3 linked regions of the Homo sapiens genome follow. The protein of the gene in region 1 interacts with the protein of each later gene in a pairwise test. Each region holds a gene or a part of one and is shown in the gene's direction. Other genes may lie near its edges.

Region 1 (4,312 bases):
AAGTGGGCTAAGGAAATGAATAGACAATTCTCAAAAGAAGGTATACAAACAGCCAACAAACATATGAAAAAATGCTCAACATCACTAATGATCAGAAAAATGCAAATCAAAACTACAATGCGATACCTCCCTACTCTTGCAAGAATGGCCATAATCAAAAAATCAAAAAATAATAGATGTTGGCATGGATGTGGTGAAAAGGGAACACTTTTACACTGCTGCTGGGAATGTAAACTAGTACAACCACTATGGAAAACAGTATGGAGATTCCTTAAAGAACTAAAAGTGGGCTGGGTGTGGTGGCTTACACCTGTAATCCCAGCACTTTGGGAGGCCAAGGTTGGTGGATCACGAGTTCAGGAGTTCAAGACCAGCCTGACCAACATGGTGAAAACCTATCTCTACTAAAAAACAAACAAACAAACAAACAAATATACAAAAATTAGCCGGGCATGGTGGCACACGCCTGTAATCCCAGCTACTGAGGAGGCTGAGGCAGAAGAATTCCTTGAACCCTGGAGGCGGAGGTTGCAGTGAGCCGATATCGCGCCACTGCACTCCAGCCTGGACAACAGAGTGAGAGTCCATCTCAAAAAAAAAAAGAACTAAAAGTGGAGCTACCATTTGATCCAGCAATCCTAGCAATACCACTCCTGGGTATCTATCCAGAGGAAAAGAAGTCATATATGAAGAAGATACTTGCACACACGTTTATAGCAGCACAATTTGCAATTGCAAAATATGAAACTAGCCCAAATGCTCATCAATCAACCAGTGGATAAAGAAAATGTGATATATATATATACACATATACCTACATACATACACACACACCATGGAATATTACTTAGCCATAAAAAGAAATGAAATAATGGCATTTGCAGCAGCCAATTTCAGAAATGGAAAACCAAACATCATATGTTCTCACTCATGAGTGGGAGCTAAGCCATGAGGATGCAAAGGCATAAGAACGACACAATGGACTTTGGGGACTCGGGGAAAAGGATAGGAGGGGGAGGTGAGGGATAAAAGACTACACATTGGGTACAGTGTACACTGCTCGGGTGGTTAGGTGCACCAAAATCTCAGAAATTATAATTAAAGAACTTATTCATGTAACCAAACCCCACCTGTTACCCAAAAACCTATTGAAAAAAAAAAATCCCTGTTGTCAAGGAGCCCTTAGAATATCAACAATGACAACAATAAAGAAAACGTGTTCCAACAGGAAAATGTGCAATGCATTTTATAAAATGATCTGATTTATTCTGACTCTTAGTCACTTTTATGTAACATATAATTAAGCAATCAGGTGAATTAGTCATGTATTTTCTCATGTAATGTACCTTTATACAGTCAACATCCCATAATCAGCCAATACTGGTAAGTTTTAGGAACGTATATAAAGAGAAAGAAAAGAAAAGCCTCTTGAACAAACCAACATTTGAGCCAGGAATAACTAGAGAGGAACAATGGGGTTATTCAGAGGTTTTGTTTTCCTCTTAGTTCTGTGCCTGCTGCACCAGTCAAATACTTCCTTCATTAAGCTGAATAATAATGGCTTTGAAGATATTGTCATTGTTATAGATCCTAGTGTGCCAGAAGATGAAAAAATAATTGAACAAATAGAGGTAAGAACAAAATGGAATATCTTTCATTAATTTTTAGTTTTTTACTATTATTTTTAATTGACATATAATTGTACATATTTATGGCATACAAAGTAGTATTTCTATACATGTATACAATTTGTAAAGATCAAATCAGGGTAATTAGCATATTCAGCAACTCAAACATTTATCTTTGCATTGTGTCGGGAACATTATAATTATTCTCTTCTAGCTACTTTGAAATACACAACAGATTATCAGTAACTTTAATTTTCCTATTGTACTATCAAATACTAGAACTTATTCTGTCTACATAACTGTGCTTTTGTACACATTGACAAACTTCTCTTCATTTCCTTTCTCTCCCCTATCCTTTGCAGCCTCTAATAAGTATCATTCTACTCTCTATCTCCATAAGATACCCTGGTTTAGTTCCTGCATATGCATAAGAATATGTGGTATTTATCTCTCTGTGCCTGGCTTATTTCATTTAACATAATGTCCTCCATGCTCATCCATGCTGCCACAAATGAAGCAATTTCATTTTTTTCAGTGACTAAGTAGTATTCATTTGTGTTTATATACCACACTTTATCCATTCATCTCTTGATGGACACTTAGGTTGACTTCACATCTTGGCCATCATGAATAGTGCTACAATAAACATGGAAGTGCAGACTGATGTCTTTTCCCTTGGATATATACCCACTAGTGGAATTGCTGAATCATGTGGTCATTCTATTTTTAGATTTTTGAAGAACCTCCATACTGTTTTCCATAATGGCTGTATCAACTTACATTTTCACCAATGGTATATAATAGGTCTCTTTCTCCACATCCTTGTCAGCACTTTTTTTGTCTTTTTGGTAATAACCATTCCAACTGGGCTGAGATGGTGTCTCATTCTGGTTTTGATTTGCATTTCCCTGATGATTAATGATGTTGACCACTTTTTCATATACTTGTTGGACATTTGTTTGTCTTCTTTTGAGAAATGTCTATTCAGATCATTTGCCCATTTTAAAATATTATTATTATTATTACTTTGTCTTTGAGGTTTTTGAGTTTCTTGTATATTCTGGATAATAATCCATTGTTGGATGAATAGTTTGCAAATATTTTTCCCAAGAATTGGGATGTCAGCCAGGCACGGTGGCTCTCATGCCTGTAATCTGAACACTTTGGGAGGCCGAGGAGGGCAGATCATGAGGTCAGGATTTCGAGACCAGGCTGGCCAACATGTTGAAACTCCGCCTTCACTAAAAATACAAAAAATTAGCTGGGCATGGTGGCACATGCCTGTAATCCCAGCTACTCAGGAGGCTGAGGCAGGAGAATTGCTTGAACCCGGGAGGCAGAGGTTGCAGTGAGCTGAGATCACGCCATTGCACTCCAGCCTGGGCAACAGAGCAAGACTCCCTCTCTGGAAAAAAAAAAAAAAAAAAAAAAGAATTGGGATGTCTTCTGTTTGAATTATGGAGAAGAAAACAAAGTTAATAGTTAATAATTATTATGGAAACTTCTGAGTCCTTCAGGAAGTTAAAAGCAGTGTGGTGCAGTGAGGACAATATGGTAATGGGCAGAGGGAGATGAAGGTTTTAGACAGGGTTCTACACTGTGTCACCACAAGACAGAAGACAAGGCACAGGGCTCCCTGACACTGAGTTTCTTGATCTGTAAGTTAGCAGTTGGACTCATTTGTTCTTTAAAGAATTCTTTGTTGAATGTTTATGACATGCTAAAGAGCAGTAAAATTTTTTTAAAGCCTCTGGCACCATGCAGTGTATCTTCTTTTCAGAGATATAGTTAATAAGTAAATGGATCACAGGTCAGATGGTGGTAGTAGGTTGCTGTGGAGTAAAACAAATCAGGAAGGGGGATATGGAGTGTTAGGTGGGGCTGGATTGGGGGAGAATGTGGGTTGCTATTTCATGAGGGAAGTCAGGGAAGGCCTCACTGATGATGTGTCAGCACAGACCTGAGATGAGCGAGAGAAGAGCCCATTGAAAACTAGGGGAGAAAAACAGCATGGAGGTGAGAATTCGTTTGATGTAACCAAGGAAACAGCTATGAATGAGCAGGAGGAAGCATAGGGTGAGCTGAAGTTAGAGAGGTGGCAGGGCCTAGACCACCAGAAAGACTTTGACTTTGACTCTGTGATGAAAATCCATAGGAGGATTCTGAGCAGAGAAGGGTGTGTTCTCATGCATGTTCAGGAATCACTCTGACTGCAATATTAAGGACTGTAAAGAATTTCCACTTGTCACCCATCCTCTATAAACTCTGTGGCAGCTTACTGGTGTAGAAGGACCCCAGGTAGGAAACTCTTGCAGGTGGGCAGTGATGGTGACTAGGAACAGGGAGGTTGTGGTAAAGATTGTTAAAGTGATATGGTGGTTAAGATGTATAGGGGATAGGTGAGGGTAGGAAGGAAATATAATAAGAGTCAAGGAAGAATTCAAGAGTTTTGCTTGAACACTTGGATTGAGAAGGGGAAGACTGTAAGTGGAGAAAATTTGGCATTTGGAAAATCAAGAGTTAGTTGGTTGGGGCTTTTGGAATTTATGTTACTTCTGAAAACATCCATGTAGATGGAGGCAGGAATCTGAATTCATGATGAAGAATGAAAATTTGGGTGTAGATAACTAGGCAAGTACAGATGGAGAAGAGAAAGGCTCCAGGACTAAACCAAGGACACTGAT
Region 2 (3,649 bases), on another chromosome or scaffold:
AGAATAATCTTCCAGTCCCTTCAAGCTTTCACGTGTTGCTTGGCACTCTGCAGGCACTTCAGGAAACCTCGTGAGCCTTCCCCTGCCATTTGAGTGACTTGGAGTGCCCAGGGTCATCCCACAGTCTCAAAGCAGAGCTGGCATTGGGCCGTGTTTGACAAGCTCTCTTCCTAACCTTACTGCTTCATCAGGTTTCCCAGGATCATACCATGTCAAGCCCTGAACGAAACCTTTGCTCTGATGCTCTGCCTTCCTCTTCTGTGTTTCCCATCTCACAGATATTGATGACCATGAGATCCCTGCTCAGAACCCCCTTCCTGTGTGGCCTGCTCTGGGCCTTTTGTGCCCCAGGCGCCAGGGCTGAGGAGCCTGCAGCCAGCTTCTCCCAACCCGGCAGCATGGGCCTGGATAAGAACACAGTGCACGACCAAGAGTACGTATTCAGCCCGGGCTGTGGTCCAGTGGCCTCCCCATCATCTGCAGCTGAGCCAGCGGCAAGGGCATGCTCAGTCCTCCTTTCCTTCTTCCTGTTTCTATGGCTCCTTGACATTCTTCAAGGATGATTCTTATTCCTTATTGCCACCTATAAGTCAGGTATTCTTTTTTCATCATTGTATCACAGGTGGAAGATCTTTAGGCCCAAATGGGGCACATTACTTGTCTGAATCCGGTCTCTCCTTTTTTTCACCACAGACAGACACACACACATACAAATAGACACACAGGTACACATACACAGTCATAGTAGCAGAATCCAGAAAATAGCTAAGGTTTCTTGACTATAACAAGACCTTTTTTAAATCAACACATTCAAACATTGAATCATTTGTTGCAGCTTTTGTCTTGGGCCAGTTAGCCTCACGCATTATACTCGGTTATCCTTTGTTTTTAAGGCTGGGTGCAGTGGCTCACACCTGTAATCCCAGTGCTTTGGGAGGCTGAGGCAGGTGGATTACTTGAGCCCAGGAATTCGAGACCAGCCTAGGCAATATAGGGAAAACCTGTCTCTACTAAAAAATTGCAAAAAATTAGCTGGATGTGGCAGTACATGCCTATGGTCCCAGCTACTTGGGGGGCTGAAGTGGGAGAATCAACTGAGCTTGGGAAGTTGAGGCTACAATGAGCCAAGATCACGCTCCTGCACTCCAGCCTGGGTGGCAGAGTGAGACCCTGTCTCAAAAAAAAAAAAAAGTTTTAAAGGACATATTTTTAAATTGATGGCCTGAAAATGTTATAACAAAATTCTAATAATAAAGAGGAAAGAATACCCTAATCCTGCCAGCATAACAGATGGTCTATTTGACTTTTCCTGCTCCTCTCAAGGCCTTGTCTATCTCTGTGTAATCCTTGAGTGTGGTCTGCCACTGCTGGTGTTTGTTTTTCTGAGCTGGAGGAAGTTTAAGATCTTGAACTTTTCAGAGTCCTTAAGATTTCAGCATGATCCCAGTATCTGTCAATTGGCCTGAACCTGACTGTTGATTTTTAGGCATATCATGGAGCATCTAGAAGGTGTCATCAACAAACCAGAGGCGGAGATGTCGCCACAAGAATTGCAGCTCCATTACTTCAAAATGCATGATTATGATGGCAATAATTTGCTTGATGGCTTAGAACTCTCCACAGCCATCACTCATGTCCATAAGGAGGTAGGTCTGGCAGTGGCTTGGGGGACTGTATCACAGAAAGGCTTCCCTTTGTTAATTTGGTCCCCAGTCTTGTTGACTTGTGTTGTCCTTATGTGCCAAGAGTGCTGCTTCTCCACTGGGCATGATGGCTCGCATCTGTAATCCCAGCACTTTGGGAGGCCAAAGTGGAAGGATCACTTGAGCCAGGAGTTCAAGACCAGCCTTGGCAATATAGTGAGACCCTGTCTCTACAAAACAAACAAAACAAAAATTAAAAAATTAGCCAGGCCTGGTAGTGCATGCCCGTAGTTCTACGTACTCAGGAGGCTAAGGTGGGAGGATTGCTTGAGTCCAGGATGTCGAGGCTATAGTGAGCCATAATCATGCCACCGCACTTCAGCCTGGGCAACAGAGTGAGGCCTTGTCTCAAAAAGAGAAAAAAAGAAAAGAAAAAAAAAGGTGCTGCTGCTTCTTTCTCTTCTGTGTTCTGCCTCTTTCTGTCCAACGATCCTTCCCGCAAAGGATAACTTGCTGAGGCAGAAGTCCCAGGGCTGGGCATTTGTATCTTTAAGTGCTACAGGCATTTCTGTTACACACCAGAGTATGAGAATCAGTGCCTAAAAGACAGACCGTATTCAAACTGCAGAGCAAGGGAGAAGTTGTTTAATGGTGAATTGACACCAAGGGATTCAGGGACGTGGCAGTAATTGAGGGCTTGTGTGATACTGTATGGTGCTCCAAAGTTTCTGAAGCCCTTTCAAGTAGGTTAGAGATCTCGTTGGATCTTTGCAACATCTTGAGTAGGCAGTGGCAGGCATTGTTAATACTTCCATTTTCAGTGGTGCATGCCTGTAGTCCCAGCTACTCATGATGCTGAAGTAGGAGGATCACTTGAACCTGAGAGGTTGAGGCTGTGGCAAGCTGCGATGTTGCCACTGAATTCCAGCCTGGGCAATAGAGCGAGATCCTGTCTCAGAAAACAAAAAACAAACAAAACCCTCCCATTTTCTAGGTGAAGACACTGAAATCAAGATCTTGTGCCAGGCTAAGCACAGTGGCTCATGCCTATTATCCCAGCACTTTGGGAGGTTGAGGCAGGAGGATCGCTTGAGCCCAGGAGTTCAAGACCAACCTGGGCAGCATGGTGATATCCCGTCTCTACAAAAATTAGCTGGACATAGTGATGCTTGCCTGTAATCCCAGCTGCTGGGGTGACGGGGTGGGAGGGTAGTGGGGAGGAACACCTGAGCCTGGGAGGTCGAGGCTGCAGTGAGCTGTGATCGTGCTACTGGACTCCAGCCTGGGTGACAGAGTCAGACCCTGTCTCAAAAAAAAAAAAAAAAAAAAAAAAAAAATCCTCGTGCCTCCACATTTAATGTCATTCCCCTTCTGCCACACTGCCCTCTATAGAGAGGAAGCAAGGCAAAGTTAGCCAGGTGAGTGGGATTACATTCGCTGCTAGGAGTGCAGGTGAGGTTTGAAGGCAGCAGGGAGCATGAATGATTTTGCACAGGAGAATGGCATTGTTTAGGGAAGATCCTTGGTTGTGGGAGACAGACTGAAGGACATGAGGAGAGACTAGTGTTAGGCGGAGGAATTAGGGGTCAGCAGTCCTGGCAGATGAGGATAGTGGTGGTGACAGGAGAGGGAATGGTGAATGTGGGAGATGTGGCAAAGGAAGAACCAGCCAAGGATGTGAACAGCCTCAGCCCACTAACCCTGCTCTTGGAGCATGGGAAATACTTTCTCCTCAAAGATCATAACAGGTTCTGCTCATCGGCAGTGCCTTCTTCCTCTTGTTTTGATGCCAACTTGTTGTCCAATTCGTCACTGTTTCTATTTTATCAGGCAAATTTGTGCACAGAGCTGACCCTCAGGAGGACTGGCACTTTTCCAATTAAAGAAGAATGAGCCATAATGAAACAAATAAGCAAAAGCCTATTTTGAAGGGCCTTCTTTTAACTGGCAAATGTAATTTCTAAACTGGATTATGATAAATTGACTCAATAATACATATTCTCTCT
Region 3 (3,649 bases), on another chromosome or scaffold:
TGTTGCCCAGGCTGGAGTGCAATGGTGCAATCTTGGCTCACCGCAACCTCCACCTCCCGGGTTCAAGCAATTCTCTTGCCTCAGCCTCCCGAGTAGCTGGGATCACAGGCATGCGCCACCACACCCAGCTAATTTTGTATTTTTAGTAGAGACAGTGGTTTCTCCATGTTGGTCAGGCTGGTCTCGAACTCCCGACCTCAGGTGATCCACCCGCCTCGGCCTCCCAGCTTCTCTTGGAATTTTAAAGCTGTTTGTAGTTATCAGAGCTAATGCTGCTTTAGACAGCTTCTCTCTGTTCCTCTTGGTTAAACTTCCTGAAGTTTGTCTCCATTACAGGTTTTTGCAAACAGCCAGCCCTTCGTGTCTCTGAGTTGTTGTTTATGCTGGTTAATCCTTACATCTTTTTGCTTTGTTGGGTTTTTTCTTGTAGTTCTGGTTCCTGGCGTGTTCCTTAACCCTGCAATGGAGGCTGTGGCTCTGCTGTTCCTTGGGCTGCGTGCCATGGATCTGCCTCTCTCTGCTTTTGTTGCTGTTCATTTCTGAGTCGTTTGTAATTCCAGCCTCGATGCCCCCTTTAACCCTGTGGTTATTTAAAAGGGTGTTGACAGATTTTTCAGTGCACACAGATTGGGCGAGGGGAGCAAATTTTTTTGTAGTTACTTTAAAATTTGATTGCATTAAGGTCTAATGGTAAGGACTGAAGGAGTTCTGCTTTTTGGAATCCTTTGAGACTTCACTGTGGCTAACACAGTCCCTTTTTGTGACTGTTGCAGTGTAGTGCTAGAAGAATGTATCCTCACCACTCCTTGGTTATATTGTTCCCGCCTGAAGCTGGGCACTTGCTTACTTGTGTTAGTCAGCGGACCAGAGCGTTCCCTAGCTTCTTGTCAGGCTCTCGGTCTGCTGATTTCCAGGAAAGGTGAGGTAGACCTCCCCTGTGGTTCTGGAGGTGCCCGTTTCTGCTTGTATGTCCAAGTTTTGCTTTCTGCCTCAAGACCATGCTGTTTGATGCATAAGTTTTCCTGTTACCAACACAAGAAACTCCTTTTTGTCCCGTTTAACGTCTTATTTCTTCATTTCCTTATTTTCAACCTTTTCATCTTATTTTATAGTTATATTTTTAACTCAATCCAAAAGTCTTTTTGTAGAGTAATTTAGTCATTTACAATTGTGATTACTGATAAGTGGGAATTCGGGCCTACCTTTTTAATTTGTTAGGCTTCCTCACCGTTTTCTTATTATTCTTCTAGTGGATATGTTTCAATTTTTTCTTTTCTTTTTTTTTTTTTAAGAGACAGGGCTTTGCTCTGTCACCCAGGCTGGAGTGTGGTGGTCCTATCACAGCTCACTGCAGCCTTGACCTCCTGGGCTCAAGCCATCCTCCCACCTCAGCCTCTCGAGTAGCTGGGACTACAGGCACATACCACCACATCCGGCTAATTTTTAAAATTTTTTGTAGCAATAGGGTCTTACTATGTTGCCTGGGCTGGTCTTGAACCCTTGGCTTCAAGGGATCTTCCCGTCTCAGCCTCCCAAAGCTCTGGGTTTATAATTGTGAGCCACTGTGCCCAGCCCATCTTTCAGTTTTAAAAACAAACACGTGAGCCCCTCTTTGTGTAACTGTTGAGAGCTGATCGGTCCTGTGTGCCACCTTCCCTAGGTGGAGGCTGTATGTCATCTTAGTTCCGGTGCTTCTTATTCCCCCATCAAGCAACCATGATTATTAGATTGAAGTATACATTTTACTGGTTACTTTATTTACCATTGTTTGCTGTATCCAAGTTTCCCCTCCTTTTTGGCAGTATTTAATGACTTTTTTTTTTTTTTTTTTTTTTTGAGACAATCTCAGACTGGAGTGCAGTGGCATGATCTCGTCTTACTGCGGCCACGACCCCCTGGGCTCCAGCGATCCTCTCACCTGAGCCTCCTGAGTAGCTGGGACTACAGGCATGTGCCATCATGCCCGGCTAATTTTTTGTGTGTTTTTTTGTTTTTTTGTTTTTTTTGTTTTTTGTTTTTTTTTTTGTAGAGATGGGGTTTTGCCATGTTGGCCAGGTAAGCCACCGCACCCAGCCATGACTTTAAAAAAAAAAAATCCTATTCCAGTACAGTTTTGAGGGGGGCGCTGGTGACTGTTGTGGCAGTCCCAGGGTAGATGGCGATGGCTCAGACTTTAGGGAGGAAGTGGCGGTGGTAGCAATGCTGGAGTACTGGCTGGGTTCAGGGGGTTGAGAGGCAAAAGATCAGCAGGCCAGCTACAGGGATTAGGCTTGAGCACCTGGAGGATGCTAAGTGGGAGAGGCTTTTGGGGAGGAGCAGGAGATGGGGGTGAGGAACGGAGTTTGAGATGCTCTTGGGTGCTGAGGCCAGAGTTTGAACAGGCAGTCTGAGGCCAGCAGCTGGCCTCTGGGATTTGGGCATGTGAGTGTGGGGGTGGAGGGCAGAGGTGTTTGAAGCCTTGGGGGGTCGAGTGTGGTTCTAGGCTGGGCTTCAGTGCCCGGCCCAGGAGCAGGCCTCGCTGAGAGAGGGGCAGCCGAGGCGGGTCCAGGGGAAGGCTGAGGGGTTGTTCAGGAAAGAAGGGTGACTTGCTGTGCTGGGTGCTACTCTGACCAGAATGGAGAGAAGGGGGCTGGATGTGCCCCAGGATAGTGGAGAGAAGGGGGTTGGATGTGCTCCCAGGGTCGCTGGTTACTGGAATCTCACTGGAGAGGCTGGTGGAGCTGGGCGGAGAGGGGGCCAGTGATGAGGGGTCAGGGCCAGGTTTGGCCGTGAAGTGGAGTGAGGCAAGTAGACAGGAGCCAGAGGGAGTGTGGCTCCAAAGAGAGTGTGTCAGTGGGGAGGGCTGTGAAGGGCCAGGCTCTGGAGAGCAAGGGACAGGTGCAGGCACCACCCTGCATGCCTTGTGCCCCTCCAAAGGTGAGGCCAGGCCACGGCTGGGCATGCGGTGTGGGCACAGGGGTGGCAGGAGCGAGGGTGTGGTGGGGAGAGGACATCCTCTCCCTGGGGTTGCAGTCTGTCACGCCGGCGTCGCAGGCCCTGGGGTCTGCACTCTGTGGTTCTTGCTGTCCGTGTGGATTTGTTCTTCAGTGACAGACTCTTTGGGTCATTCTTTAGGGATTTATGTGGAAAGCGCCGCACACTTGTCTATTCAGCTCGCTAGCCAGTGTCTGCTTTTGGGCAGGTTCCCCAAACTGAAGGATGCGGGCCAGTGGGCTTCAGAGGTGGGTTGAAGCCACGCTCCAGAGGCAGTGCCCGGTGGCGTTCTGTGGACGTAGTGTTCTTCTCCGCCAGCAGCGATTCCTTGAGGGTACATTGTTAGCACGTCTATGAACCACGTGTTCGCGGTCTTGCTTGCCCACTGAGTTATAAACGTTCTTGATACAGTAAGGATACCAACGCCTGTTAAATATTATTCACCTGTTTCCTAAGTTCAGCAATTTAACACTTGCTTCAAAATCTGTTTTCTTTTTATTCCTTTATGGATTCATTATCTACATATAATTCTTGAAATCTGGATTGTCAAAATCCAAGTACAAAACAAGTGAACCTTAATGTAAACTATGGACCCTATTTGTAGCAATGAATCAGTATTGGTTCGTAACTTGAGACACACATACCCACACTAATGCAAGATGTTAATCATAGGGGA

The links.
Region 2: the proteins of CLCA4 (region 1) and MCFD2 interact in a two-hybrid assay, tested with the Homo sapiens proteins (one large-scale study listed by BioGRID).
Region 3: the proteins of CLCA4 (region 1) and THAP4 interact in a two-hybrid assay, tested with the Homo sapiens proteins (one large-scale study listed by BioGRID).

The regions. Positions count from the first base shown.
Region 1 is NC_000001.11:86,545,648-86,549,959, forward strand, and holds the start of CLCA4 (calcium-activated chloride channel regulator 4 precursor), read left to right. Parts: upstream 1-1,430; 5' UTR 1,431-1,472; coding exon 1,473-1,631; intron 1,632-3,621; exon of another isoform or gene 3,622-3,638; coding exon of another isoform or gene 3,639-3,644; intron 3,645-4,312. UniProt on the Homo sapiens protein: May be involved in mediating calcium-activated chloride conductance.
Region 2 is NC_000002.12:46,905,807-46,909,455, reverse strand, and holds part of MCFD2 (multiple coagulation factor deficiency protein 2 isoform A precursor), read left to right. Parts: intron 1-278; 5' UTR 279-284; coding exon 285-433; intron 434-777; exon of another isoform or gene 778-1,486; coding exon 1,487-1,646; exon of another isoform or gene 1,647-2,572; intron 2,573-3,649. UniProt on the Homo sapiens protein: The MCFD2-LMAN1 complex forms a specific cargo receptor for the ER-to-Golgi transport of selected proteins. Plays a role in the secretion of coagulation factors.
Region 3 is NC_000002.12:241,627,113-241,630,761, reverse strand, and holds part of THAP4 (peroxynitrite isomerase THAP4), read left to right. Parts: intron 1-3,649. UniProt on the Homo sapiens protein: Heme-binding protein able to scavenge peroxynitrite and to protect free L-tyrosine against peroxynitrite-mediated nitration, by acting as a peroxynitrite isomerase that converts peroxynitrite to nitrate.